3 linked regions of the Homo sapiens genome follow. The protein of the gene in region 1 interacts with the protein of each later gene in a biochemical or structural test. Each region holds a gene or a part of one and is shown in the gene's direction. Other genes may lie near its edges.

Region 1 (8,148 bases):
CGCCATGGTATAGTTGAAGATTGGGACTTAATGGAAAGGTTTATGGAGCAAGTGATCTTTAAATATTTAAGGGCAGAACCTGAAGACCATTATTTTCTTTTGGTAAGTTACAAGTTATAATTTCACTGAGGAAATTTTTGAATACACTTAATGAGAACATTTTCATCATACTTCTTTGGTATACTTTGGTTATTAAATTGTCATATGTCTAAATGACTTTGTAATAAAGCTGTATCATCTTTAAGACCATCTAGTTATGGCTACAGGAGAATAGTAGTATGTCAAAGCACCACATGTTAAACACTTAAGAAGTGCTTTTGGTAGTTAATGTCTAATCTTTATGATAGAAACAGTAAGTAATGTTCAGAAAAATGTTGGAAACCTGTGGCACTTTTTTGCTTAAAAAACAATAGTCTGATTATTATATCATTGGTATTTCTTCATAACAAAAATACAATATAATCTAACTTTTTATTAAACATCTTTTTATTAAAGCAGTGCATGTTCATAACTTAAAAAATCAAATGACTTTATAAGATTTAAAACAACAAAATAACACTTTCCTTTCTTACCTCTCCCAACCTTTGGTTCATATTCCCCGGAGGCAAACATTTTCAATTTTAACAAAGTTTGCCCTGCTAGTAATCTTTTAACATGTTTCTTTTATTTAACATTTTTTTTTTATTTCTTCTGTCTTTAAGAATATTATACATTATTTACCAACTTCCTAATAGGAAAAATGAGAATTTCCCTTTTTACCTTTTCTCTCCCTCAACACAAAATACCTATCCTTTCCCACTCCTCGCATTGTAGTTACATCACAATTTTTGGTTAAATCAATATTCTGTGTCTTTCGGTGATTGTGATGGACTATAAAGTTGAAAGAACCATACTATGGACACTCATACACCCACAATCTAGATTCGATGATTAACCTTAACATTTGGCTATAATTGCTTCATGACGTCTATCCATCTTTCACTTCATTTTAGTTTTTAAATCACTTCAAAGTGAGTTGCAAATGGGAGTCATTTGACCCCTAAATACTTTAGCACGTATTTCATCAACTAGAGCTATCATTTGTGTATGGTTATTCTTTTCATATAAAATTTACATATCATAAAATCACCGGTCTGCACCATTCAGTGGATTTTGACCAGGGTTTGGCAAACTTTCTAAGGGAGCAGATAGCAAATATTTTTGGCTTTGCAGGGGTTATAGTCCCTGAGGAAACTTAATGAGAACTTTTTATACAATGGTCCCTGTCACAGCTACTCAGCTGTGCTGTTGTAGCATGTTAGCAGCCATAGACAATACTTAAATTCATAGGTATGTCTGTGTTCCAATAAATTTTTTTTTTTTACCAAAACAGGTGGTGGGCTGTATTTGACCTGCAGGATGCATGATGTGATTTGTCCAATCTTTGTCAGTTACATACATCTGTGTAACCTAAACTCTTACCAAGATATAGAGAAATTACTATCAGCGTGGAAAGTTTTCTCATGCCCTTTTGTAATTAATCTCTGCCCCCGTGCCCTAGTGACAACCACTGTTTCTTTTTCATCTGAGATTAGCTTTGCCCATGTTTGAGTGTCAAATAATGGAATCATGCAATATGTGCATTTTGGTGAAACACTTTTACTTAGCATAATCTGGAGATTGAATTATGTTGCATATACTGGTGATTTGTTGCTTTTTGTTGCTGGGTAGTATTCCATTGTATAAATTTGCCTCACTTTATCCATTTTCCTGTTGATGAATACCTGGGCTATTTTTGTTTTTTTTTTGTTTTTGTTTTTGTTTTTTTAAGACAGGGTTTTGCTCTGTTGCTCAGGCTGGAATGCAGTGGATCAATCATGGCTCATTGCAGTGTTGACCTCCCAGCTCAAACAGTTCTCCCAGCTCAGATTCCTGAGTAGCTAGGACACACAGGCCCGGGCCACCACACCTGGGTAATGTGTTCTGGTTTAGAGATGGAGTCTCACTTTGTCACCCAGGCTGGTCTTGAACTCCTGGGCTCCAAGTGATCCTCCCGCCATGGCCTCTCAAAGTGCTGCCACCATGCCTGGCTTAGTTCTAGTTTTTGGTTATAATAAAATAATTTGACCATTGTGAACCTTCTTCTACAAGACTTTTTGTGGACATATGTTTTCATTTCTCTTGTCTAAATACGTAAGTATGGAATTGCAGCGTCATAGGGTAGGTACCTGATTGGTTTTTTAGGGAAACTCATGGGAACTTTTCCCAAGATGGTGAACCTTTTTGCACACCCCCCAGTGATGCATTAGTAATCTGCTTGCTCTATTCAAGATTTGGCTTATCAATCTTTTATACTTTTTTTTTGAGACAGTCTTGCTCTGTCACCCAGGCTGGAGTGCAGTGGTGTGATCTTGGCTCACTGAAACCTCCCCGCCTCCCAGGTTTAAGGGATTCTTGTGCCTCAGCCTCCTGAGTAGCTGGGATTACAGGCATGCACCACCACACCTGGCTAACTTTTGTAATTTTAGTAGAGACAGGATTTTGCCATGTTGGCCAGGCTGGTCTTGAACTTCTAGTCTCAAGTAATCTGCCCACCTCGGCCTCCCAAAGTGCTGGGATTATAGATGTGAGCCACTGCGCTGCTAGCTTGTCAGTCTTTAAAATTTTAGCCGTTCTGGTGGGTGTGTACGATTTTTCATTTGCTTTTAATTTTAATTTTCATTTTCTGATAATTATGTTGAGCAGTCTTTCATGTACGATTGTTATTATTAGCTATTTGTATATTTTCCTTTGTGGGGTCCTCTGATTATCTTTTATGTAGATTTTTTTTCTTGGAGTTTATAATTTCACTGCCTTGGTTTTTAGTTTACTTAATTTTGTATGTATTCATCAGTAAATTATCTCCAGACTTTTAAACATAGCTCCAGAACTCTTCTAAAGAAGTTTAAACACCACAGGGAGTTTAGCTTATAAAGGTTTTATGTAAGGTAACAGTATACTTAGTTGTTTTGCTTTATATTTCTTTTGAAATAATAATTTTAAAAATATTTAATTTTTAATGGATTCAAGTTTTATCACTTTTTCCCTTTGTGATTTGTACTTCAGAAATTTAAGGAGTTATTCCTACCTTAAGGTCAAAAAGAGAATTCTGTGTCTTTTTTAAATTTAAAAATTTTTCTTTTACATTTAAGTATTTGAGATACCTATTAGATTGCCAGTCAGACTCACAAGAATCAGAGGTCTTACCCAGTGTTAATCTTTAAAAATTGAAACAGTTTAAGTGATCATGAGGCATAGGTGAAATATGAAGTCCAAGACTGCCAGATCTCTGAGTCCTTCCTTGCCTCTTTAGAGTGTGTTCTGTCCCAGACTTAACCTGTGAGGTTTCTAAGTGATGTATACAGTCACATAAACAGAAGAGTGCTCTGCAAACATCTTGATTCTATGCTCTTAACAGGTAAATTAATATAACATTTTTCAGAAAGCTGTACCATTAGATCTGTAGAATCTCGGCTTGTTTACTGTAATCCTATATACTTCGGGGACATTCATCTAAAAGCATTACTTAGATGAGGGCTCTCCCACTGGCAAATACCATTGATGTTTTTTCTGGAGGTTTGTCATTACCATATTTAAAGGATGATTTGACTGGACCACCTTTTCCCTACCTCCAACCCTCTCTCTCCCTGCTTCATTTCTTTTTAATGTTTAATCTGTATAAGTGGTATGATATAGGCATTCAGGGTATTTTTTTTTTAAAATGTGAATTACCATACTGTTTTCATATATGTATGGATGTTTGAATTCTCTATAGTTTTCCTTTGATCTCTGTGTCTGTCTTTCTACTTGTAAATTTAATGCATTTTAAATAAAATGTTTGAAATAAATTACTTCTCATTTAAAAATTGTCAAGAAAGTTATCAAAATAATCTGATATTATCTATTTAAAATGTTATTTATTTCAATAGACTGAACCTCCATTGAATACTCCAGAAAACAGGGAATATACTGCTGAAATAATGTTTGAGTCCTTCAATGTTCCAGGCTTGTACATTGCTGTGCAGGTAAGCAAGTTCATACTTTCTAAGTTTGATTCTTACATTTTAACCTAGTTTAATTTGCTGCCTAAAATACGTACTTTTTTTTTTTTTCTGCAAAGGTTTAAACATAATGTCAAAGCATGTTATACTTCTCTCCTGAATTGTTAATTTAGAAGTAATATTATGGGAAGTGGAGATATTTAGTCAGGAAAAGAGAAGTGTTAAAAAAGTAAGTTAGTGGTGTTTGGGTATTTCAAGGGCTTTCATAGGACAGAAATGAAGGAACTAATATTTATGGAATGCTTTCTCTGTGACAAGAACATTGTATATATATTTATCCTTGTAAATAATCCTTTATCATTTATCCTTATAAATCTTTTTGTCCTTTATTGTAGTCTTTTTTGATTGACTTATCTTTAGGTATATTTGACACCCTAATATTTCACTTCTCTTAATTTGTACGTTTATCTGTATGGAACAGCTTCTCTCCCACCCCTCAGGATCAGAGCTGACCTCATTTTTTTTTTTTTTCCCTTGTAGCAGAGGTAATCCCTGACATAACACAAATGCTTTATATGTGTATTAATTCATTATTTCTATTAAATGTAGATATTTTTGTTTCTGTTTTTTGTGGAGGAAGAAAACTAAAGCTGGAAGGCACTTTATTCATAATTAAATGGTTAGCTGTGATACCAGGCAGCTGAGGTCTGTCTGACTTTGCTCTTTCTTGGGATCACACTGGTTTTTGTAACTCCACGGTACACAGAATCAATAAGTGATAATTATGGATGAATATTTTAACTTGGATAGCAAAGAACTTTTTAATGTTTAATGCAATCCATAAATTTAATGAACTGCCTTTTAAATTCTCTGCTGCTAAAAATATTTAAGGAGTCACTTAAACCTGTCATGAACTTTATAGAAGAATTCAGTCTTGAGTGGGAGGCCCTTTTTTAGTTCTTAGAATATGAATAAAATGAGGAGTTGGGAAAATTCATCTTTCACTTGGGAGTTTTTGCTTCTCATCCTATGTTAAATATAATAAACTTATGTTTAACCATATTGTCAGGTAAAGCTTACTTTAAAACACTGGCATCATGAGCTTTGTTTCATTCCTCTGGAGTCGTAATTTGGTTTTTCAGTGATTTCCTTAGTGGCCTCTGAGTGCTCTTAATTTCATTATTTAATCTCTGTTCTGTTTTGTTGATGTTCAGTAGTCAATAACATTTCTGTAACATGATGTGCTGATACATATCTATTCTAGTTTGGGACCGTAACTGTTTACAAAAGACTTGTAAAAGTGATCAGAGATAATTCTTGGTTGTAGATGATAGTTTTGAACTTACTTATAGAGGAAGGATATCTCATAATGAAGTCTAAACAGTATATATATATATAACTAGTATTAGGATGGAATTTTTCATTTTAAGATTGTCAAAAAATAATGTATAGTTCTGTTAGCCTATAGTGATTATGTGGTGATTGTGTTAATATGATCTTGTGTTCAGATAGGAGGGTGACCTAGATAGCTTTCTAGGTCCCTTTTAGCTATTACAGTCCAGGTAGGTAAAATAAGTCCAGTATAAGTTTAGTTGTTTTTAATTACTAGTCATATACTTTGTTTGAGGCTTGGATTGTAAGAAATTTAGTTTTTTAAAAAATGAACTATGTTAATTTCTTAATTCTCACACTTAAAAAAGAATTGTGTTGTATTGTCTGTACCAAGGTTTTTCATAGAAAAATTTTATCAACGTTGCTCCATAATTAAATCATAGTAGTATTTGGAGGTGTGCGATGGCGTTTTCTGTATGTCATATAGTCCTAAACACATGTTACCTTAAAAAAATTTGAAGGTAGGCCTGGCACAGTGGCTCATGCCTATAATCCCAGCACTTTGGCAGGCTGAGGCAGGTGAATCACAAGGTCAGGAGTTCAAGATCAGCCTGGCTGAGATGGTGAAACCCCGTCTCTACTGAAAATACAAAAATTAGCCGGGTGTGGTGGTGGGCACCTGTAATCCCAGCTACTCCGGAGGCTGAGGCAGAGAATTGCTTGAACCCAAGAGGCGGAGATTGCGGTGAGCCGAGATCGTGCCACTGCATTCCAGCCTGGGTGACAGAAAGAAACTCTGTCTCAAAGAAAAAAAGAAAAAGAAGGTAATCTTTTAGTAATAGTTGTTTATAGCCATATATGTATTGAATAACTGGAGGTAGGGTGGTTGTGTACTTTCTGCCTTACATTGCAGTTTGTAACAGGCCAGCCCACGTGGACATAGTTTAAGTTCTGGCAAGTTAGTTCTATACAATTTTTTTTTTTTTTTTTTTTGAGATGGAGTCTTGCTCTGTCGCTCAGTCTGGAGTACAGTGGCATGATCTCGGCTCATTGCAAGCTCCGCCTCCCGGGTTCACGCCATTCTCCTGCCTCAGCCTCCTGAGTAGCTGGGACTACAGGCGCCCGCCACCGCACCTGGCTAAGTTTTTGTATTTTTTAGTAGAGACGGGGTTTCCCCGTGTTAGCCAGGAAGGTCTCGATCTCCTGACCTCGTGATCTGCCCGCCTCGGCCTCCCAAAGTGCTGGGATTACAGACAGTTAGTTCTGTACTGTTTAATGCAATCTTCCACATTTTTAGCTTTAGGACAGAAATAGCCTTTATAAAATATGTAAATCTTACAAATCATGCTCCTAAAAGCAAATGTAAACCTCTAAGTTTGTCTTAATAAAATGTAGGGAGTGAGCTATTTTATTGCATAATACAAAATTAATTTTATGTATTTTCTTTCCACAGATACTACATTTAAAATTGAATAAAGTACTCCAGGGAACTAGTTTTTTTTTTTTCGATTAACTCTTTGTTTTTTTGTTTTTTTTTTTTGTTTTTTTGCCTTTCTTCTTTCTTTGTGCTCAAGGCTGTTCTTGCCTTAGCTGCATCTTGGACCTCAAGACAAGTAGGAGAACGGACGTTGACCGGTACGGTAATAGACAGTGGAGATGGTGTCACTCATGTCATTCCTGTGGTAAGGCTATTTTACAGTTACTGAACAGAACATGAAATAACACATCTGGCAAAGTTAAATTATACGAATTAATGTTACTTTTAAAAAACTTTAAATGCTGCACTATAATTTGGCCATTTGTCCAGTTATAGCTATGTTTTGCTCACCGTTTAAAACTTTTATAAACAATTCAAAATGTTTCTTTTACTGTAGGTTTGTACTGCAATTAAGAAAATTACAAATTGCAATATCTGGAATGGAAGTATATTAATGGCTTTCATTCTGTTTTCCAGTTGGATGTGTGTTAGCCATTTGATGACCTCTTTTATTCATAATTAACAGATTTCAGACTGGTGTACAGGGTAACTGTATAACAGTTAGTTTTAAGTACCTGAACTTTAGTAGATGCTTTATGGTTTGTACTTAATAAAGCATATTAAGAAAAATGCATCAAATTAGATTGTCAGAAATAACATTTTTCTTCCAAGGCCGTTGTGCTTCAGTTCTTAATGATACATCAAGTTTTAAAAAAATTATGCCTAATGAATTCAAAATGACTACTAGAATTCATACTGTTTATTATTAAATGGGTATATAGAGAAAGGTTTATCTTTTAAAGTAATTTTTATATTATAATGAATATCACTTAAGGATTTACATTATTTTGAACTTTTTTTTTTTTTTATTCTCACTCCAGTGTTTAATGCATCAGGCAATGTCTGTTAAAGATTACATCCTCAGGGTGACTACCTTTGGATTAGACTCCTGGTCCTCCACCACTTTCACCCTCATGATATGTCATAATGGTTTTAGTAATAACTGCCATTGTTTAACGATAGCTTAAGATAAAATTCATATACCATACAATTCACTTCTTTAGAGTGTACAGTTCATTGATTTTTAGTATATTCACAAAGTCCATCCGTCCCCACAATTTTAGAACATTTTCATCACCCTACAAAGGAACCCTGTAACTATTAACAGTCACCACCCATTTCCCCTTGATTCCTTCAGCCCCTGGCAACCACGAATCTACTTTTTGTCTGTGTTAGATTTGCCTGTCCTGGCCATTTTATGTAAATGGAGTTAAACACTGTGGTCTTTTGTAACTGGGTGCTTTCACTTAGCCGAACATT
Region 2 (8,148 bases), on another chromosome or scaffold:
CCCTTTTCTGTGGTCCTTCCCTCTTCAACTGACCAGTCCCCTCTTCCCCCAGCCCCCGTCCTCCTGATGGGCACCCTTCATCAGGGTTCTGCCCTGTAGAAATCTCTGGTTTCTACTTCAGATATTTATCGAGTCTTCCTTCACTTCTGCCTCCATCTGGTTAGCCCCTTTTCCTTGCTTCCTTTCTACCCTGTGTTGCAAGGCTCCTTGATAGGGATCGCCCTCCTAGTTATGCCACAGTATTTATAGTTTCCTACCCTCATCTCATCAGAAAGCTGTCCATGTTTGGCTGGAGAACTCTGTTTCCTTTAAAAGGTTGCACTGTAAGCCAGTGACTCGTAGTCATGCGCAGAGTCAAGCACACATCATCAGTGTCTCCAAGGGTTATAGGAATTTACATTTTTAAAATACTCTAAATCTAAATACAGGTCAGGTCCTTCCCCCATTAAATATATTTTTAAGTCATTTGCTAGCAGCTCACCTAGTTCAAAAGACATAATCAGAAGTGCACCATAATCCAGAATTCATACTGCAATTAGGGAAGAAAATAATGAGTAGTTATTAGTTGTTACACTTCAATTAAGGAAGGAAAAAGGAAAAGAAGCTGTCTCTTCTCATTTGGAAGGCTTTTCTGTGCCACATGGTGCCCCAGTTAAGAAAAGCTACCAACTGGAATCCCAAAGATGGAAATGCAGCGTGCATCTTCCCTGCTCCCTCAGCACCCCCAATGTGTGTTTGGTATTTCCTTCAGAGAGAGAAACACAAGCTGAACCCTAACAGAAACCAGCAAGTAAATGTGAGAAAAGTCAGAACAAGAAAAGAAGAGTGGGAGAGAAGGAAAATGGGCATTGAGTTTATGAGTGACGCAAAGAAACTGGAGCAGGCAGGGAGCGCCAAAGAGGACAGAGTGCCCAGCGGGTTTGTTGTTTTGCTTTCTTTGGGTTCCCAGACTCAGACTGCCCCTGCTTCTGCCGCCATGAGAGGATGTACAGCCCCTCCTGGCCACATGTCCTGTAACCTGAGCCAGGAGCGTGTGACTGTCTTACTAACGCCCACGGCACTGCCGGGCTGCCACACTTGGGTCCTTCCTCTCCTCCTGAGGGCTTAGCAGGAATCCCGTCCCTGCACCCCATGTCTCAGCTCTGCTCCACTAATCCAAGATCCCTTTCCTTTCGGAGTTTCACACCCAGTTTGTGTGCAAAGAAAACTATGGAAAGAAGGCCTTTCCATAGTGCACCGCATTGCTTTCTGCCCTTTTTGTTAAGTACATTTCTTCTGTTTAAGAAAAATATGATTCACTCTACTGCATTCTCGATTTCTTTTCCTGTTCTTACTGTTAATATTTATCCAGTTAACCTGCCATTTTATATTTTCTAATTATATGCTGTCAGTTTCATTGCCACTGAAATCTTCTGTCTTATATCCTGTTTCTAAATGGAATGGTTTCTTTCATAGCCTTCTTAGAGAAAACGTATGCTGAAATACTGTGAAAAGGAGGCTCTGCTGTTTCCTGCTTGCCGGTCTGTCTGACTTATTCACTTCAAAGCTGTGAATCTGAATCCATGTAACACTGGGGCTTGCTGCCGACTTATAATAATTATGTTGTTGCTTGGAATCTCTCACGGGGCTATACCTAGTTGATAGTAAAGCAAATTAATGTCTGATTTTTGTGTATTAGCAATGTTATTATTCAAATACATCCATGTGCCTGTTAGCCGACAATTTTTAAATTAATTTAAATTTCTCCCACCTCTTGTTTTCAAATGCCAGGTCACATGCATCGGACGTTACGGATTACTCTTACCCGGCTACTCCCAACCATTCTCTGCACCCCCAGCCTGTGACCCCTTCCTATGCAGCTGGTGACGTGCCACCACACGGGCCTGCAAGCCAGGCTGCGGAGCATGAGTACCGGCCCCCATCTGCCTCGGCGAGGCACATGGCCCTCAACAGACCTCAGCAGCCGCCCCCCCCGCCTCCCCCTCAGGCCCCAGAGGGGTCCCAGGCCTCTGCACCGATGGCTCCAGCAGACTACGGGTAACTCAGCATGCCTTGTACCCTAATCCCTCCTGGCCTTGCATTTGAATCTTGCTCTATGTGGTAGGAGAATTTTAACTCCGGTATTTTAGAGGCCAAGATAGAGTCAAGGATGACTGGATGTAGATACTAGCAACTCTAACATTCTGTGTGAAATAAAGCAGGTGCAGCATAAGCTCAGACTTACAGTTGAGTCTCAGGCCACACTGTGCATGCATGTGTGTTCCCTCACACACACTCTGGGTGTTTGAATGGCTCTTTAAGCCAAGGCATTGATAAAGGGTATTAAGTGCTGATTTTGTGAACCTGTCCCAAACCCTCAAGTTTCTGGACACATCCTGAGTGGACCACAGAAAATTGTTATCACAGACGAGAAGACCACACCATGCAGCTCCTGTGCCTCATTTCTCAGACTTGACCAAAATCTGCTTTCGTGACCTCTGACCACCCAGACATCATTCTGCCCCAGGCCCTCCTGTTCCCTGAGAAGTAGAATTCAGAGACTTCATGTTCAGGCGTTTATCAATTTAGGCACCCACCTCTCTTTTTTTTGGCTTTACTCTAGTCTTTAAAGACTTCATTCCTCAGAGTTGGTGCCCAGGAAAATTACCGTGTGTTGGTGTCCACTGCTAACACGTGTCTGCACACCCCTGTCTGAATGACAATCCTGCTCTCAGAAGTGCTCTCCCTGGCCATGCATGCCAAGTCAGGATCCCCAGAGTGGCTTGAGGCTGTGTCAGGCCAAGAGAGGGCCCATGGTCCAGTTAGTTTGGAAGACCCTCGGCTGAATAGAATTCAGCAGATTTCTTGGCTGTGTGACTTTTCGAAGCTTTTGATACACACCTGGGCACTGCAGGCATGGGGCATTTCCACGGAGGTGGGTTAGAGAATGTAGAAAGCTCCCAATCTGGTTGACCTTAGGACCCTTAAAAGACAAGTTTGTGAGCTACCGCCTTGAGATCCCAGTGTGAAGCCTTCACTGGCGCTGCCGTCCTGGCCTCTGCAGTCAGCTGCTTTATTCTGCCTTTCTTCAGGAAGTGCTGCACTTTTTGAGTGGTCCTCCTTTTGGCACATTTCAGTAGCAGATCTTGACTTCTGTCATAATGAATAATGTCAAACTGTGAAAATAACTGACCCAAGGTGTGCATGTTTGCATCCTGCCATGATTGAAGTTCAGGTGACAATACGTGTTGTGTCTGGGGATGGCTCCGTTAGGTGTCTAAGAGCTCCCAGGACGTGACCCTCTCTTGTTCCCTTGGTGACTATGTGCCTCATATCTCTCTCAGGATGCTCCCAGCGCAGATAATTGAGTATTACAACCCATCCGGACCACCTCCTCCGCCACCTCCTCCTGTGATTCCCTCAGCACAAACTGCCTTCGTCAGCCCTCTCCAGATGCCCATGCAGCCCCCGTTCCCTGCATCAGCCAGCTCCACGCACGCAGCTCCTCCTCACCCACCCTCCACCGGGCTCCTGGTCACAGCCCCGCCACCCCCGGGCCCACCACCTCCCCCGCCAGGCCCTCCTGGTCCCGGGTCTTCTCTTTCGTCCTCCCCAATGCATGGCCCCCCAGTAGCTGAGGCGAAGCGGCAAGAGCCTGCACAGCCACCAATCAGTGATGCTCGAAGCGACCTCCTCGCTGCTATTCGAATGGGTAAGTGGAGCCCCCAGACACACAGCCTGCCTTTCAGCAAGAGGTTTCTTCATGTCTCCAGCCAGCTACAGCCTCCTTGTCTTCAAATGACTACTCACTACGTTTTTTAAAATAGAGTTAAAGGGGTCTTACTTGATTTTTTTGTTTTGTTTTGAATAGTAGTTGTGTTTTTGTCCAGTGTAAGGTAATCAAATTGTGATAAAGATTGGGAAACAGCCGGGCGCGGTGGGCTCATGCCTGTAATCCCAGCACTTTGGGAGGCCAAGGCAGTTGGATTGCTTGAGCCCAGGAGTTTGAGAGCAGCCTGGGCAACATGGCAAAACTCTATCCCTACAAAAAATGCAAAAAAAAATTAGCTGAGCATGTTGGCCTGAGCCTGTAGTCCCAGCTACTCAGGAGGCTGAGGTGGGAGGATTGCTTGAGTGTGGGAGGTCAAGGCTGCAGTGAGCCGTGGTCACGCCCCTGCACTCCAGCCTAGGCGACAGAGCGAGACCCGTCTCAAAAAAAAAAAAAGAATTGAAATTAGGAAGTTTTTACTTACCTTGAAACCAGAAACCCAATAACTGAAGTGATCGATTAATTAATTGGATCTCTTCTCTGCATTCTGCTCTAAGGGGAAAAGTATAAATGAAAGAAAGTGAGCTCATATTAATGATTTCTTTAAAAAAAAAAAAGAGTTTGTGCTGGACTTGTCATATTTGCTTGATGTCCTAAGCCAGTGGTTTTTCAGAATCTATAATATTCAACAGCATAACCCTTTTGTCAGATGAAAGTCCCGCGTTGACCCCCTGACCACAAAACACATGGAAACAGAGCATCTCAGGTGGAATTGGGTGGGGAGTCTGCCCTCGCCTGTCTTGGGCTGCCCAGAGAGCCCCTGGGAACCTCCAGCCCACACCATGGATTCTTAACCAGGTCCCAACCCAGGTTGGTCGAGGGTCCCTGACATGTTATGGGAATATCCAAGAGCTTCTCGCCTGTGGGGAGCTGCACAGACTTGGTCACAGTTTAGTCATCTCATCTGGAAGTGACCAAGCAAGGAGCCTGGCTGCAGCCCGCCAGCTCAGCATCAGGGATGTCCTTCAGAGGAGCTGTGATGCTGCTGCCTCTGCGTTTTTCTTGTGTGCCCATGAACCAGGCCCACAGTGTGGCCCACGCACCCTTCTAAAGACCCCAGGGTCCTCTGTGTACCTGGACATCATTGACACACTTTTATTTTGTCAAGATAAAAAAGTCCTAGAGGTATATTAGCTCATGAATATCAAGTTCGGGGTCATTGTAGGACGGTGTTGGATTTGCCTTTTTTTTTTTTAACACCTTATAAGCCCTGTCTACCAAGAGTAGATACATAATCTGTATCTAATCTCGAGGAAACATCTGATACACCCAAATCGACAGACATTCTGCAAAATAGCTTCCTATATTCTTCAAAAACGAGAAGGTTGTAAAACACAAAGACTGTGAAGAACTATCCAGATTAAAGGACATTAACAAAATTGACAACCAATGTCACGGATAATTTCCACTGGATTCTGAACCAGGGGATAATCTTTTCCATTTGCAATTAGATTGGGTCTTTTTGCAAAATTTGAATAATATTTGTAGGATAGATAGTAGTAGTGTATCCAAACTAATTTTGTGATTTTGATATTTTGGGTGGGCGAGGCGGGGGCGGTAACACATGAACTATTTTAGGGGTAAAGGGACATTATATGCCATTCACTCTCAAATGGTCCAGAGAAAAGTGTCTGTGTCTGTCTGTGTAAAGATGATAGGGGAAGATTGGGAAATAAATGTGGTCAGATGTTAGCAGTTGGGGAATCCAAGTATATGGGAATGTTTTTCTGCTGGTCTCATAGCTGTTCTGTAAATCTGAAATTATTTCAAAACAGTTAAAAAATGAATGGATACCATCTTGGGCAACATTGCAAGACTCTATCTCTACAAAAAAGAAAATACAAAATTTAACCGTGCATGGTGGCGTGCGCCGGTGGTTCCAGCTACTCAGGAGGCTGAGGTGGGAGGATTGCTTGAGCCCAGGAGGTCGAGGCTGCAGTGAGCCATGATCGTAACACTGCACTCCAGCCTGGGTCACAGAGTGAGACCCAATCTCAAAAAAAAAAAAAAAAATGGATAAACATTAAATCATCAAATATCTTACTTTGTTACTAAGCTAGAAAGTAGATGATTGTATTTTATGTTTGTTTCCACAGTAATTGTTGAAATAAAGGTTTCTCAGTTACTTCTTGGGTTAGCTGAGAGTGAGTAGCATAGAACACTGTTTCCAAGGCTCTGGATGCTGTTGCTGCCTAGTAGATGTCCTGTGGTGATAGAAATGCTCCAGCCTGCAGCGTCCCAGAGAGTAGCCACTAGCCACATGTCAGTTCATGCTTTTAAGGCTATATGTGCCTAGTGGCTGCTGTCTGGGATGGTGCAGCTCCACAGTTTTCTCTAATGGTGTTCAGGTACACTGAAATTAGGAATTTTTAATATTTTAACACATTACTTTGTTACAAAAAAACTTCTCACTTTGAATGCATGTTTTTTCTCATGAAACTTTTAATATTCCCTGAGCTTTTCTCCCCTCAAATTTCTAAAACTTTCTGTCCTTAGTGTCAGTAGAAAAAAAAGTCCAATAGACATATTTGTTCGTTTATCTTTAATTTGGAGCCAGCAAAAGGATGTGATTCTGAACCACGTGTTGTGTCTGCAGGAATTCAACTGAAAAAGGTGCAGGAGCAGCGGGAGCAGGAGGCCAAGCGGGAGCCAGTGGGGAATGACGTGGCCACGATCCTGTCCCGGCGCATTGCCGTGGAGTACAGCGACTCTGACGACGACTCAGAGTTCGACGAGAACGACTGGTCCGACTGAGCAAAGGCCGGCGGAGAGGCCGCGTGTGGGAGCGTGTTGAAGATTTTAAGTGGTCTCTACACCCAAATAGTGGTATTCTAATCCCGTAGCATAGCACCTTTTGTATAAACAATGTGATATTGCTTCTGCACATCCAAAAATTCTGGGTCTTTTCAGTATTTACTGTGTAATACTTAAGTGCCACTAAACATAGCAAATTGTGCTGCACATGAGGAAATAGGCTGTCACTATCACATTGTCCTGAAAACAGCATCTGCTTTCCTCTTGGCCATGAGAGTATTTAGTGCAGTTTGGGTTTACTCTTACTGATCAATATAACTCTGCAGACTTGCTGTGTGTTTGTGAAGCTGCCTGGTGTTAGGTCTCTGCAAGACTAATGACTATGTCAGAGTGATGTCTTCCAACCAGTAAGTGATATTGTTTCACCGCTTTGGTTTTTCCTTTTGTTTTTTTAAAGGATGTGTTTCTGAATAAGTTGGTTTTAGAGGGAAAGGTTCAACAAACAGGGAGAATCCAGTGTTTCTGCTTTCAGTTTCTTGGCTTGGTAGCCTCTGAGTGAATCTGATGCTCTGCTGAATAATTTCATTACCTCTGCACATGCCTGTCAAATATGAAATTGGAAGGGCCCTTTTCAGGCTGGGTTCCCTGTGGGCATTTGCTTAGTAAATGCCTGTTGATGGTTTTTGCAAGAGAATTCAGCAGCTCAACAGTAATGAAAGTGAAGAACAGAGTCCATTTTCCTTCCTGGGGCCATTGGGGATGACACTCAAGATACTTGCCAGTCTCTCCAGTGTGGGCACCAGCCGGCCAGAACAGATGCGAGCAGTCCATGACTCTGGGAGCTACACCGCTGAGCTGGGCAGAGCTGCGGCACAGGGCCTGGGCTGCAAAGGAGCCCTGCTCCTTTAGTTTCCTGACACCTGTGTCCTGAGTGAGCCGCAGGAGTTCTTAGCTCCTCAGCGAGCAACAGAGAGCACTTTAGATGGCACCTTTCACCACTTGGTCAGAATTTTAAAAGCTTAGGTTTAGGTGAAAGTAGATATTGACAGCTATTCACCTTTCACGGTGCTGGGGCCAGATTAGGGATCACTCCCGTGAGGAGGGCCTTCACCCTGTTCTAGAAGCACATGGTTGTCCTCCTGTTGTTGGCACATTAAATGATAAAAAGCACCTCATGAGATTCCCTTGATCAGCCCTGCAGCTGTAGTACAGTGCTGTGCCCTCACCTCCACCCTTCCTGTTGTTCCCACGTGGGCAATACCAGGGACCCATGGGGAAACTCAAGAATGACAGCTTCTATATTTTGTAATTCTGGATGAAAGATAACTGTGTTGAACAAACAGGTGCTCCAGGCTTTGATTATAGATACGACTTCAAAAATATGCTAAGACGCTTGACTTATTAAGGACTTTAACCTACTCAACAGTATTTCATATCCATTGTGGTTAGTTACTCAGTTATGTTGAGAAGAATCTGGAGCTAAAAGCAGAGATGTTTGAGGTGACGGTAGGAATGTGAGCAGGATGGTGATGGGGGTTTTTGTTAAAATGCATCTGAGCAAGTCAGCCAGCCCCGAAGTCCCCTCA
Region 3 (8,148 bases), on another chromosome or scaffold:
AAGAGATTAAAAAATTGAGGTTAATTTTTGTATATTTGTGTTTTGTTGCATATATTGAACTTCATTAATCTTGTATTTTGACAGTTTTATTTTATTGGGTCCATATAGTTAAATACTGAAGTCTTTATAACTCCACAGAAAGAACACAGTCTGATGGGGAGCAGATGAGCAATTAGATTATTAGAGTAGGGCATAATAAGTGCCATAGCAGAGGTATGCATAAAGGGTTTAGATAACACAAAATAGCATCTGCTTTAGCTAGCAGGCAGGGTAAACCCTTCCCACAAAGCTTATAATGAATCTTGAAGAACAGATAGGAGTTAGGTGTACCAAGGAAGAGAGGAACATTTTGGTAAGGAGCAATGGAATCTTGTACAGATATTGGTAACGTAGATTAAGCTAGTATTTTGTTGCTACAGAGCACATCCTAAACATTTCTCTCCTAAATGTTTTGGAGAGGTTATTATATTCACATGAAATTTCTGTTATTGTCATTTTCCACTTTCTAATAAAATTCACTTGTATCTGCTTTATATTTCATGTTAATGATAACTGAAAACACAGAAGGATGAAGCAAAGTTAGATTTAGGTTGAATTATGAAGGAGGCAAATTCTGTCTTTATCATCTCTCTGGTTCTCCTGTAGCTATCTCTGCTTTCCCTAATCCCTGTATAATGCCATTGTATTGTCTTCTTTGCTAGATGGTAACCCAGTGTTCTAGCTAACATTTGCAAATTGGTGACTGGCAAGCCAGATTATGCCTGTAGGGAGTGTTTTGTTTGCCAAACACAGAGGTTTTTAAATTTTGGAACTAGAGTGCCTGAGATGGACATGTCTGTCTAGCTCACCTCATGCCCCATCTTACACCCGACTGGCTTCATTCATGTATGTTATCCGCTTGGCCGCTTTGGGCGTTTGAATTTGTTACACTTACTCTAGCCCTTTCTGTACTTTCTCCCCCAGTTTTGAATCACTTTTTGTTTTATTGTTTAAAGACAATGTTTTCTGTTGAGTGATATAGTTATTATCGGTTAATTAGATAATTGGATTTTTTTCTAATGTGTTGGCTAGCTAATCAGTTACTTCCCAGATAACATAACCTTAGTAAATTGTTACGTTTTGATTAGGGGCAGACAATGCCATTCATCGTAGAAATTTCAAACTAATGCCTGTGGAGCAAGGGTTCATGAGTCTTTTTTCATCTGAAAGACTTTCTGACCTCAAATTGTATTCTTTAGGCATACTGTTTTGTGTCTGGTGCATCAGTTCAAATTAGGGGTTAAACAAAACATGGCAGGAAACTGGGATTACAGCAGACTGGCTAAGATTTAACTGAATGTACAAGTAAACCATTTCTGTGTTACTTTTACTATATTATGATGACATTGTCTTTTTCAGTGTTGATGTTAGAGTTTAATTTGATTGTTATAACCTCCTTTTTAAAAATTAGCGCTTAAGCATTTGACTTTGTTTCAATACATCTGTTATAGCAGAAAAATCTAGATCGTCCTCATGAACCAGAAAAAGTGCCAAGAGCACCTCATGACAGGCGGCGAGAATGGCAGAAGCTGGCCCAAGGTCCAGAGCTGGCTGAAGATGATGCTAATCTCTTACATAAGCATATTGAAGTTGCTAATGGCCCAGCCTCTCATTTTGAAACAAGGTTTCTTTACTTTTGTTTTTTTTTTTAAATGATAAAACATTGGCTTTATTTGTAGTATCTGTACTTCTAAGTCTTGAGTCCTAAACTGTTGAACAGGCAGACCCTGTTATAAATATAGAGATTATTTCAAAATCCTGACCACTGTGAGCCTACTAAAGTCAGGCCTTGAGCAGGTCATTTTCATACCTGGACCTTAGTTTTGTCATCTTAGAAAGAAGTGGTTGGAGTGGCTGATCTTTAGGGTTTTAGCTTTAGTGTGACGTCTCAATAGCCTCTCGATATTTCAGGCACAGTCTGCTAGAATTTTGTAATAAAAGTTTAGGGTCTGGGGTTTTTTTGAAATACTGTTGATTTATTGCATATAAAATAGGAGTGAAGAAGGGGTTCTGTTTTGTTCCTTTTACTTTCCCCTGACTTCCTTTCTTTGCCACATTGCCCACCTCAGATATATTAGGACTTTCAAACAAAAGTATTGATCCCTTTTGTAGAAAAGATTTTTTCCTTTCTTAGTGGCCAGGGGCCCTAACTAAATAACATACTACCAGCAAACACATTAAACTGGCATCTGTCTACGAAGACACTTATTTGGGTATAGTCATACGTTTGTTTGTTTGTTTTGAGACAGAATCTTGCTCTATCGCCCAGGGTGGAGTGCAGTGGTGTGCTCTCAGCTCACTGCAACCTCTGCCTCCTGGGTTCAAGCGATTCTCCCACCTCAGCCTCCCAAGTAGCTGGGATTACAGGCACACGCCACCACGCCCAGCTAATTTTTGTATTTTTAGTAGAGATGGGGTCTCACCATGTTGGCCGGGCTGATCTTGAACTCATGACCTCAAGTGATCTGCCTGTCTCAGCCTCCCAAAGTGCTGGGATTGCATGTGTGAGCCACTGTGCCCAGCCTAGTCATATGATTTTTTAATGGAAAAGAGCTTAAGGTTTTCTTTTAAGTAATATACATATAAATGATTGGGCCATAAGTGTGCAACATCTTGACCTATTTTAGGAGAAATATACATCTGAGAGATACTATTTATCTGTATTACTGAAAGAATTGACATTAAAAAATTAATAAACTTTAGACATTTATTTCTACTACAGTTGAGTAATTAAGGTACTTATCTGACTCACTAAATACAATAATTTCTGACTTGCTGTGTGCACATCTGTTAAATCCAACTTTTTCCCAAGAATGTACTAGCAAATATTTATAAATCTTAACATGTTCGAGTTATCTAAAATTTTGCTTACATCTAAGTCACATGTTGCTATGTTACTCAGCTATTTTCTGAGTACCCTTGCACCTTTGAAAACAGCAGAAGGACAGAAACAATATAGCTAGCCACCTCTGTGCTGCTAGTATCTGGGAGGCCTTTCTCTCTGGTGCAAGACTTTTAGAAGTCATTTAAGTTTAAGAGCACACCGAGATATACTAGTAGTAGAAAACTCATTTTCCTATTCTACCTTTCTGTCATTGGCATCTTCTTGTAAAGAACTAAATAGAGGCAGATAGCTTTCCACACAATTTGCTAAAAGTTAATTATTTTCTTGTTTATTAAATTACGTACGTAATGCTTTTCATCCTGTGAGTTGAATTAGTATTCTGTTATAAAATAATAAAATAACCGATGGTCATCATAGTAGATCTCTAAATCAACAAGTAAGGGTTATATTGTGAGCAGCATTCTTTGTTTTAAAAGCAGGATTAATATAATACATTTCTGAAAGTTTCTTAAAAATAGTTAAAATATTGGCATTGAAAGGATAAACTTTAAATATTTAATATCTCATGTAGAACCCTTTCCTCCCAATAATTCAAGAATAATTCACTGATACTATATATTTCTTTTAGACCTCAGACATACGTGGATCATATGGATGGATCTTACTCACTTTCTGCCTTGCCATTTAGTCAGATGAGTGAGCTTCTGACTAGAGCTGAGGAAAGGGTATTAGTCAGACCACATGAACCACCTCCACCTCCACCAATGCATGGAGCAGGAGATGCAAAACCGATACCCACCTGTATCAGGTATGTTGGAACAAGCATATGATGTTTTATCTTAGGAGTCAGTAAGCTTTTTCTTTCAAGGACGATATAGTAAGTATTTTTGGCTTTCGGGCCTTACAGTTTTTGTCACAAGTACTCAATTCTGCCATTGTTGCATGAAAGCCACCATAGAATATACATAAACAAATGAATGTGTCTGTGTTGAAATAAACTCTATTTATAAAAACAGGGAGCAGGTCAGATTTGGTCTGTGGGACATTATTTGTAATCTTCTGGTTAGAGCTGACACACTCTCCTAGGAAAATTTAGCTAATAAGAATTTAAAGATTAAAGCCTGTTTCATTTTATTATAGTGTTGTTATCAAGCATATCATGTGCAGTGTATTAAGAAAAATTAAGGATTTTTTGGAATGTGGGTAACAGTCTAAGAAATGGGAACCAAAGATGTGATTATTAATACTAATTTGGTATTAAGGAAAATACTTAAAGAATTTCAGAGAGGATTGGCAGTTGCTTATAATAATCTTTCAGTAAAGCTATTTTGAAGTTTAATCTTGTCAGTTATTATCCAAATGATAAATTTCTAATAGAGAAATATTAGGGAAATTTTCTAATAGAGATATAGAGATCAGCTTTACAATTTTCAGTTAAAAATCCAATTTTCTATCACTGACTCATTTGGTGTTCCATCCTCAGGAAAAGAGAGAGCTGTAAATTTCTTTTTGTGGTTTGTAATTAGCTGTCATTGATTTAACTGAAATAGCATATGATGAGACTTCATAGTTTCAGTATAAATATAGCATTGTATTGGCCACATGTATTGCCACAAAATTGCATTATGATCAATGTTGAGTCATTATAGAGACTCCTGTCAGTATAGAATTGAGCATTTTATTTATTAAAGTAAGCATAAAATATCTGAGTGGATGCCAAAGTTGCATGAGAGAATGAGACTATTTAGACTATTACAAACCAAAGCACCACTCATTAATTTTTTTATTGATGTGCTTTTAGTTCTTTTTTTTTTTCTAAATACTGTTGAAGATGTTAAATTTCTATAGGAGCATGTTATTGGATCCATTTTGATATAATTACTGATAGTCATTTATAGTTTGTGTGGTTAGATTTTCTCTTTAGGCTTTTCTCTTTTAATAACTTGCTAGAATCTCTTTGTCATTTCAGTTCTGCTACAGGTTTGATAGAAAATCGCCCTCAGTCACCAGCTACAGGCAGAACACCTGTGTTTGTGAGCCCCACTCCCCCACCTCCTCCACCACCTCTTCCATCTGCCTTGTCAACTTCCTCATTAAGAGCTTCAATGACTTCAACTCCTCCCCCTCCAGTACCTCCCCCACCTCCACCTCCAGCCACTGCTTTGCAAGCTCCAGCAGTACCACCACCTCCAGCTCCTCTTCAGATTGCCCCTGGAGTTCTTCACCCAGCTCCTCCTCCAATTGCACCTCCTCTAGTACAGCCCTCTCCACCAGTAGCTAGAGCTGCCCCAGTATGTGAGACTGTACCAGTTCATCCACTCCCACAAGGTGAAGTTCAGGGGCTGCCTCCACCCCCACCACCGCCTCCTCTGCCTCCACCTGGCATTCGACCATCATCACCTGTCACAGTTACAGCTCTTGCTCATCCTCCCTCTGGGCTACATCCAACTCCATCTACTGCCCCAGGTCCCCATGTTCCATTAATGCCTCCATCTCCTCCATCACAAGTTATACCTGCTTCTGAGCCAAAGCGCCATCCATCAACCCTACCTGTAATCAGTGATGCCAGGAGTGTGCTACTGGAAGCAATACGAAAAGGTAATTTTCTCAGCTCCATGAAAAGCATTGCTATAGTAGCATTGGAAACTTTCTAAATATTTAAGACAAAAATGTGTTCCTTATCTATAAAATTTTAGGTGATCATGTTTGTGTACAAATGGCCTTTAGAAAGTAAAGCTATATCCAACTTATATTTAAAATTATTTTCCAGAAAATATATCACATTTGACCATTTTATTTTCATGCTTTGTAGGTATCCTTAAAATGTTTATTGAGTGAATGAGAAATTTAATATATCAGACTTAAATGTTATAGAACATTTAATTAAAACCCTTTATATTATGCTTAATGTGTATATTAACTCCTTTAAAAATGGTATTTTCTTCAATGTTAAGGCTGTTCATTTTGGGTATCCATGACACTTGCTCTACCAGATGCCTTTAGAGGAGTGAGTTTCCTCCCTTAGTAACAAAGGAAAGACTTCTCATATTCATTCATTTATTGTCATTATTTCCTAAGCAATGACTATAGGCCAGGCACTGAGCATATAGAATGAATAATAGTGCCTTTCCCTCAAATACAATGGATAATGAAGCCACAGAAAATATATTCAACAATGTTTAATTTATTTGACCATTGAGGTGATAGAAGAAATGTACCACCTCATTAATTTTTTAGGGGGTGGTGAGCAGGGAGGTATAGTAGACCATGATGGATAAATAAACTGTAGATACCTACTGGGATATCTGGTAAGTTTTACCAACTAATAACACAGATAACATAAAGATTTAATGCCTCTCTCAGTATGATTTCTTCACATTCTTTTCTGATCTTTTTATTTTCCTATAAGTATTTCTCATGTGTATTTGATTTTATTCCAGAAATATTAATAATATCTAGTATCTAGTATTTTGATTTAAATGAATGGTTTGGATTCACTGTATCAGGTATTCAGCTACGCAAAGTAGAAGAGCAGCGTGAACAGGAAGCTAAGCATGAACGCATTGAAAACGATGTTGCCACCATCCTGTCTCGCCGTATTGCTGTTGAATATAGTGATTCGGAAGATGATTCAGAATTTGATGAAGTAGATTGGTTGGAGTAAGAAAAATGCATTGATAAATATTACAAAACTGAATGCAAATGTCCTTTGTGGTGCTTGTTCCTTGAAAATGTTTGGTCATTCTAGTGTTTTGCTTTCTTTTCCTTATAATAAATGACCCTTTTCCTCCATAACTTTTGATTTCTAAGGAAAATATTAGCATACATTTCAAACTAAATGTTTTACAGTGGCTTATCTTTTTTTTCCCCCTGAAAAGACTAATTTGGTCAAATAAACCACTAAGTATTAAGCATGGACAGCTGTTGTTAGAGTAGCAGATTCAGTTTTTTGATATATCTTAATTGTGTACTTTGTGAATTTTAATTTAAAGAAAGCAACTGAAATTGAAATCTTGAGGGCAGCTGTGTCTACTAATGAGCCTTATTCCATTTCCTGATGTTTTAAAAGAAGAAACACTGCCTTGATTATACGAATACACTCAGAAAGTACATTTAGCTTGTAGTGTTGAATTCTCTTAAAGGAATGCTTGAATTTTTTCATTATTGTTTTATTGTTTTTATATACTTGCCTTATTTGAATGTTTAGCAGTATCCCCTTCCCACTTATATATTGTGTGATATGATTTTGCTTGCCTATAGGAGTTAAAAACTTTTCCATGTGAAATACTCTGACTTAAACATACATGTAACTTACATAACTGTTAAGAATAACAGTCTGATTTAATAAATGGTTCATTTTAAAAGTTCATCAGTGTTGCTCTTTGAATAAAATGATTTATCATAATTTATCAAATACTGTATGGTAGGCTTTAAATAGTGAATGAAAATTTGAAAAACACTTAGGCTACATAATTTCCTCTTAATTGCACAGCTTCATATTGTCTACTGTGTAAGGTAGCTTTTATGTCATTTTCCCCCTAAGTTCATAAACTCTGTATTTCTCAACTGCTTGTGGTTTTAAATTAAAACCTCAACTTGTCATCTAATTTCAGCATACCTTAATTTCAGTTTAACAGTGTTCTTGAAATTATGTTTTGCAGCCAGGCATGGTGGCTCATGCCTGTAATCCTAACACTTTGGGAGGCTGAGGCTGGTGGATCACTTGAGCCTGGGAGTTTGAGACCAGCCCAGGCAACATGGCGAGAACCCCGTCTCTACAAAAAAAATACAAAAATTAGCCGGGCGTGGTGGGGTGTGCCTTTAGTCCCAGCTACTTGGGAGGCTGGGGTGGGAGGATCACTTGAGCCTGGGGAGGTTGAGGCTGCAGTGAGCTGAGATCATGCCACTGCATTCCAGCCTGGGCAGAGTGAGACCCTGTCTGGAAAAAAAAAAAAAAAGAAAAAGAAAAATTCTATTTTGCAATGATAAAATGAGTTAATGTTTGCACAGCTTAGATTTAGGGGTGGAGGGGAAGCACCATTAATAGCAGATTACTTCATCTGAAGAAACGACTCCATGAAGTTTGGGTAAGTTGATTGTAAAAGTGACTGTGGTCTTCAGCCTTGCCTATATCTACTCCTTTTGCAGTACAATTTCCAGTTCTTCCATCGAGAGGTGAGTTCTGTTCCATGTCCTTGAATCTGGGTGTCCCTGAAACTTGCTTTGGCTAATAATAGCATGTAGCAAAAGTGACATTGTGCCAG

The links.
Region 2: the proteins of ACTR3 (region 1) and WASF3 form a complex in vitro, tested with the Homo sapiens proteins (one study listed by BioGRID).
Region 3: the proteins of ACTR3 (region 1) and WASF1 form a complex in vitro, tested with the Homo sapiens proteins (one study listed by BioGRID).

What each region holds. Positions count from the first base shown.
Region 1 is NC_000002.12:113,927,354-113,935,501, forward strand, and holds part of ACTR3 (actin-related protein 3), read left to right. Parts: coding exon 1-102; intron 103-3,947; coding exon 3,948-4,043; intron 4,044-6,925; coding exon 6,926-7,033; intron 7,034-8,148. UniProt on the Homo sapiens protein: ATP-binding component of the Arp2/3 complex, a multiprotein complex that mediates actin polymerization upon stimulation by nucleation-promoting factor (NPF).
Region 2 is NC_000013.11:26,679,284-26,687,431, forward strand, and holds part of WASF3 (actin-binding protein WASF3), read left to right. Parts: exon of another isoform or gene 1-751; coding exon of another isoform or gene 752-918; exon of another isoform or gene 919-1,770; coding exon 1,771-2,037; exon of another isoform or gene 2,038-3,132; intron 3,133-3,323; coding exon 3,324-3,691; intron 3,692-4,232; exon of another isoform or gene 4,233-4,300; intron 4,301-6,404; coding exon 6,405-6,562; 3' UTR 6,563-8,148. UniProt on the Homo sapiens protein: Downstream effector molecules involved in the transmission of signals from tyrosine kinase receptors and small GTPases to the actin cytoskeleton. Plays a role in the regulation of cell morphology and cytoskeletal organization.
Region 3 is NC_000006.12:110,098,922-110,107,069, reverse strand, and holds the end of WASF1 (actin-binding protein WASF1), read left to right. Parts: intron 1-1,490; coding exon 1,491-1,663; intron 1,664-3,512; coding exon 3,513-3,692; intron 3,693-4,853; coding exon 4,854-5,482; intron 5,483-6,390; coding exon 6,391-6,548; 3' UTR 6,549-7,251; downstream 7,252-8,148.